3 separate regions of the Homo sapiens genome follow, and regions 1 and 3 are each linked to region 2. Evidence: fine-mapped expression QTL. A gene starts in region 2. Each other region holds a variant in brackets. All regions are shown on one strand. Distances are between the middles of the regions.

The links. PIP is the estimated chance that this variant, and not a neighbour inherited with it, causes the effect. A credible set is the group of variants that fine-mapping cannot tell apart.
Region 1: its variant is the best candidate, but not a certain one, in a credible set for the expression of MAN1C1 in whole blood (TOPMed, PIP 0.65).
Region 3: its variant is the best candidate, but not a certain one, in a credible set for the expression of MAN1C1 in cerebellar hemisphere (GTEx, PIP 0.85).

Annotation. Positions count from the first base shown.
Region 1 is chr1:25,561,646-25,564,360 of GRCh38, forward strand. It overlaps LDLRAP1 (low density lipoprotein receptor adaptor protein 1), which reads left to right. Exons shown (of 9, transcript NM_015627.3): 5 at 999-1,071; 6 at 1,425-1,508; 7 at 2,016-2,146. Among named protein-coding and RNA genes, the nearest start is that of LDLRAP1, 19 kb to the left of the region's middle. RefSeq lists an enhancer at 1,599-2,226. The variant G/A (reference allele first, on the strand shown) is at 1,536.
Region 2 is chr1:25,615,745-25,618,494 of GRCh38, forward strand. MAN1C1 (mannosidase alpha class 1C member 1) reads left to right here and starts at 1,047. Exons shown (of 12, transcript NM_020379.4): 1 at 1,047-2,593. The coding sequence starts at 2,054. RefSeq lists an enhancer at 313-482 and silencers at 673-962, 983-1,272.
Region 3 is chr1:25,780,387-25,783,136 of GRCh38, forward strand. MAN1C1 (mannosidase alpha class 1C member 1) reads left to right here. Exons shown (of 12, transcript NM_020379.4): 10 at 554-726; 11 at 2,199-2,314. Among named protein-coding and RNA genes, the nearest start is that of SELENON, 18 kb to the right of the region's middle. RefSeq lists enhancers at 1-208, 209-831. The variant A/G (reference allele first, on the strand shown) is at 1,517.

The DNA.
Region 1 (2,715 bases), 54 kb before region 2:
GAGCTGATTAACCCTGGACTGGAATGGCTGAGAGAGGAAGGTGTTGAGATGAATATGGGCTGGGGATAGGTCCTGGGTGGAATGAGGCCTGCACCTCAGGTGAATGTAATTCACCCAGCATTGTTGCCACCTCTGGGAGGCTTTGGCCTGCTCCCGAGGGCAGGGGTGTTCAGATTGATTCTTGCTTTTAGGGTGCACAAAGCTGGGGGAAACACAGGCAGGGGAGCCAGTGACACTTTCACATGCATAGTGCCAGAGGGAGGTGGGTGGGGCTCGAGGAGTCTGGGACTGGTGACAGGAGAGGTGGTGACATCTGAGTTGGGTTTGGAGGGGTGAGGGAGAGTTCCCCTGGGGTGAAGGGCCGAGGTGTGGCCCTTCCTTACAGGTGGGTTATAGCACTGACCGGTTTTGGTCCCCGGGCCTTCATTGACATCTTGCTCCTATCAGGAAATTGACAAGCCTTCTACTCTCTTTGTGGGATCCAGTTATGGTCCCAACCGGAACCTAACTTTCACCTCTCTGGCTGTGGCTCATTTGGGGCAATGGCTGGGCCCTTCCAATTCTGGCTTTTCTGTTCTCCAATTCCAAGGGCTAAGTCCACAGGTAATTAGGGAGGGTTTCTTGGAGGAAGTAAGCCTCACAGTTCATTGAATTCAGGGAAGCCCAAAGGGGAAGGAAAAGACCTGGAGAAGAACAGCCTTTGCAGGCAGGGGCCCTAGAGTGAGAGTGAGAACTTTGGTGGGGCCAGAGATAGTAAAGATGGGGACTCTACTGCCTCTGCGAGGCTATGGCCTTATGACACCCCAGGCTGCTTTGGAGACCTGGGAAGGGCCAGGACCCTGCTCTGCCCAGCAGGCATTCCAGAGCCTGGGATGGAGCTGCAGAAGCTGCAGGGAGGGAGCCAGGGGGCCTGGCCTGGAGGCCCCAGCCCTCCAGTGCAGACTTGCTCTGCCCTGGCTGACACTGCACCCCTCCCCATCCCCACTTCCTGTTTTCAGGCACAGGCTGTTACCCTCACCGTAGCCCAGGCCTTCAAAGTCGCCTTTGAGTTTTGGCAGGTGTCCAAGGAAGGTGAGACTTTGCATCTACATTGTGGGTGTGGTGGGAGGTGGGGAGACACATAAAGGCCCTGGGGTCAGACCTGGACCGACTTCCTGCCTCATCACCCACCTGGCTTGTGACTGTGAGCAGGTCCCTTCACCGCTCAGAGTCTCGGTTTTCCCATCTGAAAAATGGGAACAGCCGTCTCCCTCCCCAAAGGTGCTTGTGAGGATTAACTGACATCCGAAAGGTTTCTTTCCTCCCGGCTGGAAACCTGAAACTGCCCCTTGAGGTTGGCCACCGCTAATCACCCCTGCCCGGTGATTGCTGGGGACAGAGTGCTGGGGTCTGAGGCTCCAACATGTTGTGCCTTGGTCCTGCAGAGAAAGAGAAGAGGGACAAAGCCAGCCAAGAGGGAGGGGACGTCCTGGGGGCCCGCCAAGACTGCACCCCCTCCTTGAAGAGCTGTGAGTCCTGACGGGGAAGGGGGATTG[G/A]CCATGCGGTGTTGGGGTTGCGCTTCACCCAGGGGGGTCCCACTCCTGCCTGGGCTGGGAGAGCCTCTTGGTTTTTCACTTGTGTTTTGTTAAATAAATAATACACGTTCATTACAGATCAATTAGAAAATGTAGATAAGGGGAAGAAATAACTCATTTTAGTACATTTTCTTCTAGATATGTCCCTATGCAAATATATAAATATGCGTCTATCTTTCTATATACTTAACATAGTATTGTGTGGTTGCTTAAGAAAACTTAACTATTGTGAATACAAAAGTTTCAGTCTAAGCCATTAGTCAGGTTCTCACTCTGTGGGCAGCTGCGCATCTGCTGTGGGGAGGTGCCAGGGCCGGGCTCTGCTGGGAGGCCTGGGCAAGGCCACATCAGAGGGGAGGGTCAGGGCCAGGACAGCCCAGGGAGGGGGCCAGGAAGGAAGAGGCTGATCTCCCACTGACAACCTGACCGGATCCCTCACAGTGGTCGCCACTGGGAACCTGCTGGACTTAGAGGAGACAGCTAAGGCCCCGCTGTCCACGGTCAGCGCCAACACCACCAACATGGACGAGGTGCCGCGGCCACAAGCCTTGAGTGGCAGCAGTGTTGTCTGGGTGAGTGGTTGTGTGGCCAGCAGATCGGTGATCCTCAGCCTGACCTCTGGGTGAGCCTGGGGCTGCTCCAGGGACCAGGCCCTGGGACCCGTGACTTGTGGGCCTCTGGGAGGACCAGACCCAGCCCGGTAGTGCCCAGGCGCAGGATAGGGGATGAACAATGTCCCTTTTGAACCTGAGGCTGCATCCCCAACAGGCTTGGCTCCCAGCACAGCTGTCTCCTCACAATGCTTGGCCTCTTGGCCTGAGCGTCCACGGCTCTGCCCACCACAAGACCAGCCAAAGGCGCCCTTGTTCTTGGTGTGGCAGAGCTCGCTCCTACCACCCCTCCCCCTCAGCCGCCTGAATGAGGACCCAGAGACTTGGGCAGTCACCAGCTTGGTCCCTGACTCCCTCAGGGACTCAGGGCAAGCCCCCTGACCTCTCTGTCTCAGCTTTTTCATCTCAGTAAGGGTGATGACCTCTGCCAACGGAATCTCCCCGAGGAACCTGAAATTTAATTTTAATTTTTCATTTGGAAATAATTTCAGACTGTGTTACAAAATTAGTACAGAGAATTCCTGTTCACC
Region 2 (2,750 bases):
GGCTGTTTTTGGAGGTTATCTGTTGCCTGAGTGTCTGTGGGTATGCGGGTGCACATGTCCATGTTTGTACTAATTTACATATATGTCTATGCATACTGTGGTATAATCACTTGGGTGTCCATACCCAAATTAAGTGTATGTTTGAGTGCATGTACACACCCACATGCCAGTCTCTGTGTGCATATAGATCTATGCCCAGACGCACACATGTGCATATAAACACACGTAGGCATCAAGGTAGACGTCCGTCACATTATGTGTGTGGTCTTCTGTAGACACGCCCGGGGCTCTCTTCCTTTCGCTGCTTCTCAAGGCTGCGGTCAGCCTCCCTCCGTGCTCCACCCAGGAGCCCTGGCCCCGTTTAGGGTTGTGGGAAAAGGAAGGCACGCCAGTGGTCTGCGAGGGGGCCAGTGGAAACATCACCTCCGCCGACCCGGCCGCGGTCACAGCTCTCTGGCTTGGCTCCAGCCACCAGCAGCACCCCTGCAGCCCGGCGTTAGCGCTGAGAAGCCCGGGGCAGCCGCCAGGGCGCGGGCTGCCAGCTCCCTGACAACCCCGGGCTGGCACTCGGGGGCGAGAGAGGTCACCCAGCGACGGGCACACCCCTCCAGAGCAACACCGTCTCCGGCCCGCTTCCGGGGGCCACCAACCCGAGCCTCGCGGGCGGGCTGGGGGGTGGTCTCTGTCGCTTGGGGTCCAGCGAAGGCTGGGCAGTAACCAATGGACGACTGTGGCCCAACGGGGATCCCTCGGATGCAGCCAATGCCCTCGTTGCGCTCTCCGCCCCCGCCCTCGCCTGCCCCGCGCCGCTGGACCATTGGCGCCCGCTGGATGGGGGGTGCGCGCGACGCCTGCCCTTCGGGGAGGGCGGGGCTTGGAGCGGGCTGCGCTCCCGCCCGCGCTCGGCCTCTGCCCCGCCCCCGGACGCGCGGCCCTCAGCCGGCTGCGGCGCGGCGGCGGCGGGAGGGGGCGCGGGGCGCGCGCGTGGGCGTGGCCGGCGGGCGTGGCCGGCGGGCGGCAGGAGGCGGGGCGGCGGGCGCTGTCGCAGTGAAAGCCCGAGCGGCGGCGGCGGCGGGGACGGCGGTGGAGGCGGCCGGGTGGCTGTGCGCGCGTGTGGGGCGCAGGCTCGGCGGCAGCGGCCGGTCTGGAGCGGCCGCTGCGAGGAAGACAGCTGCAGCGGGGGAGGCGCGGCCAGGGCTGCGCGCTCCGCGGAGCCGGCGGGGCCGGGAACAGGTGATCCCAGTGGGAGCCCCGCGCCCTGCCGAGTTCGAGGGGCGGGAGCCCGCGCTCCCGGGCGCATCTGCAGCCGCCCAGCCGCGGCTCCGGACCCAGGCATCCCTGCGCTGTCTGGGGCCCGGGGGAAGCCCCCTGCCCCCGCAGGCTCGGAAGTGCCTGCTCCTGCTCCCTGGCCACTCCGGCTCCCAGCTCCCGGCGCCCTCTCCGCGGCGGAGAAAGTTGTGGACGTGTCCCGATAGTCGAGCCCGGGCGCTGTCGCGACCGGGCCGGGTGTGCGCGCGCTCGGGGCGGCGCTGACACGCCAGCCCCCCATCGCCTCGGTCCCCTCCGGAAACTGCTTCTGAAGCTGAAACTTTGGGCGCCTACCAGCGCGGGCGGGAGCCTAGGGGGCGGAGGGCGGCTTGGTGCGGGCCTGCGGGCGCCCCTCGGCGCGGACAGCCGGGACGCCGCGGACGGCATGTGACGGTCCCGGCGGCCGCAGCGCGGGAAGGCGCGGGCCCCGGCGCGGCGGGGAGGGCTCGGCCGGAGGGGAGGCTGCGGCGCGCGGCCGGTCGCTGCGGGCCCGGGCCCCAAGCCGTGCCGCTCCGCTCGCCCGGGCCCCGCCGAGGCCGCTGCGCCCCCGCCTCCTCGCGGGAGGACTCGCTCCAAACTCCCTGAACTTCGGGGACAGTCCCCCGAAGCGGCGAAACTCTCAGGGTTGGCAACCCTGCCCAGGGACCCCCATCCCGGGCGGCGCTCCGGACGCCCTCCCCTCACCGCGCCCCCGCAGACACGTGCCTGGACTCCGAGGGCTTCTGGAGCCACCGGCCGGGCCACGATGCTCATGAGGAAAGTGCCCGGCTTCGTCCCGGCCTCCCCGTGGGGGCTGCGGCTGCCGCAGAAGTTCCTCTTCCTCCTCTTCCTCTCGGGCCTGGTCACCCTGTGCTTCGGGGCCCTCTTCCTGCTGCCCCACTCCTCTCGCCTCAAGCGCCTCTTCCTGGCCCCCCGGACCCAGCAGCCTGGTCTGGAAGTGGTGGCTGAAATCGCCGGCCATGCCCCGGCCCGCGAGCAGGAGCCGCCTCCCAACCCGGCCCCCGCCGCGCCGGCCCCGGGCGAGGATGACCCCAGCAGCTGGGCCAGTCCCCGCCGCAGGAAAGGGGGGCTGCGGCGCACCCGCCCCACTGGACCCCGCGAGGAGGCCACGGCGGCCCGGGGCAATAGCATCCCGGCCTCCAGGCCCGGGGACGAGGGCGTCCCTTTCCGCTTTGACTTCAACGCATTCCGGAGCCGTCTCCGCCACCCGGTCCTGGGAACGAGGGCCGATGAGAGTCAGGAGCCCCAGAGCCAAGTGCGAGCCCAGCGGGAGAAAATCAAGGAGGTATGGACTCAGCCCCCAAACTCCTCCCACCAACTGCCCCCTCTAAGGAGAGAAGACCCTCTGGCGCTCCCACCCCTTTCCCTTGCCTCAGTCACTCCTGGTCCCAGGTCTACTTCTGGCCCTGCAGACTGCACTTTGCACCTTCCCCTTTCCTCCC
Region 3 (2,750 bases), 160 kb after region 2:
CCATCTCTACCTCAGCTGTTCCCAAACTCTCGAAGTTTGTTCTGGGAGGTGTTAAAAGCAGTTTTCTAAGACAAAGGGTCCCAAGGAGAAGCCTCATTTCACATTAGCATATTAAAGGATCTGATAAATCCTGCAGATGGGAGACTTATTTTGTTTAACCCTCGGTTCCCCAGATGTGTTGAAACCCGAAACCCTCTTGGCTGAGGTCTGGCTAACCTCTTGCAGAGCTATTGCCTCAAAGTACACAGTTGTGGAACCCCGCCCAAACCTTCACCTACCCAGACTGCTGAGTAGCTCATTTGGACTCTCAGAGTCCAAAGCTGCTCACATTTCCAGTCCCCGAGGGTCTTGTTCTGTCCAGCCCAGGCCAAGAGGGAAGCTGTGCATCTGCCCGGTGCAGCCTTACACAGCAGTCCAGGCAGGGGCACCCCACACCCACACACACCTGACATCACCCTGGCCGCGGGTTCAAGGCAACTGACATCTCTCCTGGATCCCGAAAAGCAGGAGGTGGGAGGTCTGACCTGGGCCCTCTGCTTGGCTGTTTCCCCAGACACCAAACTTGGGCCTGAGGCCTTCTGGTTTAACTCCGGCAGAGAGGCCGTGGCCACCCAGCTGAGCGAGAGCTACTACATCCTCCGGCCAGAGGTGGTGGAGAGCTACATGTACCTGTGGCGACAGACCCACAACCCCATCTACAGGGAGTGGGGCTGGGAGGTGGTGCTGGTGAGTGGGCCCCAGGGATGGGCAGCAAGGTGCTAGATGCCCCTGAGAATTTACAGGCTGGGTGCTAGGTGCCCTGGCTTGGGCCTGGAGTGGAAGGCCAAGCCACGTTGACCTCTGACCACAGTTCAGAGTGCAAAGGGTCAAGGTGGTGGTTACAGAGCCAAGAGTCCCCAGCTGGGCAAAGTTGTCCTGAGACAGGACAGGCCAGACTTGTGAAGAGGGTTCTGAGTGCCCATATCCTTGGGGCCTGGGACCAGGCCTCAGCAAACTTAGAGGGTCAGAGGCTAGGCAGCTGCCTAGAGCACCACGCAGGCACCACGCGGCCACCGCTGTCCCAACAGACGCTTTCCTGATCTCGAAGCTGGGCAGCTCACCTCCACCTCCCTCCTCTTCCCACAGGCAGCCCAGCCTGAGGGACCCCCCCACCCTAGTCTCTACTGGCCCTTGAGGCCTACCCTGCCCTCAGCCTCCGGCCCCACACCTAGGTGGAAATTTAATGGCTGTCTTGGGGGAGGTGTCAAAGGCAGGTGTGGGGATTCCAGCAGGTTCCCTGGTGGATGCTGAGCCTTCTCTGCCCCTATCTCCCCCACCACCCCCGTGCCCATTCCGAGCATTGCACTCAGACGGGGTCCAGGGCATGCTCAGGTTTACTGGCCCTGTTAAGTCCACCTGCTTCCCCAGGACCATTGTTCTTGGCCTTCAAAGGCCAAGCGTCTTGTGCTCCTATGCCCAGTCCATAGACCCCCTCCGTGGGTAGAAATTGTATTTATCAGCCTATAGGCAACACGGC[A/G]AAACCCCATCTATACAGAAAAATACAAAAATTATCCAGGCATGGTGACGCACGCCTATAGTCCCAGCTGCTTGAGGGGCTGAGGCAAGAGGATTGCTCGAACTGCAGAGGTTGAAGCTGCAGAGTGAGCTCTGATCGCCCCACTGCCCTCCAGCCTGGGCGACAAAATGAGACCTTGTCTCAAGAAAAAAAAATGCATTTATATAGAAAGATGAATGGCTTGGCTCACTTGCCTCCAGCCCAGGGGCCATCTCTCCTGAGAATCCCTGGAGTACCAAGTCCGTCCCCAAATCCCAGCCCATGGCCATCACCCGTGGCTTCTCTTCACCTCTGCCTACCACTGTGGGTGAATCTGTAAGACCAGCCTAGTCCCCTGAAACACAAAGAGAAGCTTCCTCTAAGTTCAAACCAGGTGAAGAGCTCAGGACAGGCAGCCCATCGGGCCAGAGCTCTCAGAGGTGTGGGTGGAAGGAGTGTGGCCCCTCCAGCCTGGGGACAGGTGGCTAAACCCCGAAAGAATAATTTGACCTTCTGTTCCCACAAATGCCAGGAGTCCCCAGCCAAGGGGTGGGGGTGCTGTCTGCTTTCTTCTAGCTCCAGCCTGCCAGGCATGCACAAGTCTTGAGGGGCCTTTCCTGTCCCGTGTTAAGGCTGTTTTCCTCCTCCTCTTCCCCTTCCTCAGGCCTTGGAGAAATACTGTCGGACAGAAGCCGGTTTCTCTGGGATCCAAGACGTGTACAGTAGCACCCCCAACCACGACAACAAGCAGCAGAGCTTCTTTCTAGCGGAGACACTAAAGTGAGCAGTGTGGGCTCTTCCTAGGGATGGACAGGTGGGAGGTTGAGGGTAGGGGTCCGCAGTCCCTCCCCTCCACAGTCAGGTTCTGTGGTCACAGGACGGGAGCCCAAAAGGGGTGAAGGGCTTGGGATCCAGAGGGCTGCACCCCAGGTGTGAGCCTTGGGCCAGGCCGCTTTCTCGGAGAGTGAGACTGGGCTAGAATCCAAGTTCCCTAGGGACGCACCGTGTGATACCGCAGGTTCCTTCAGTTTCTCGCTTATCTCCCCAGGTTGCTTCCGTTCTGGGAACCGCGTCCTCGTGTGTAAAATGGGATAGGGTTAACGATGATGATGTCAGTGCTGGTTGCTGGCATTGACTTTCCCTCCTGTGGCCTCTGCAGTGTGGCTGCTGTGCCCTCCTCGATTTCATGCCATGGAAGTTGGCCATCCCACTTCCT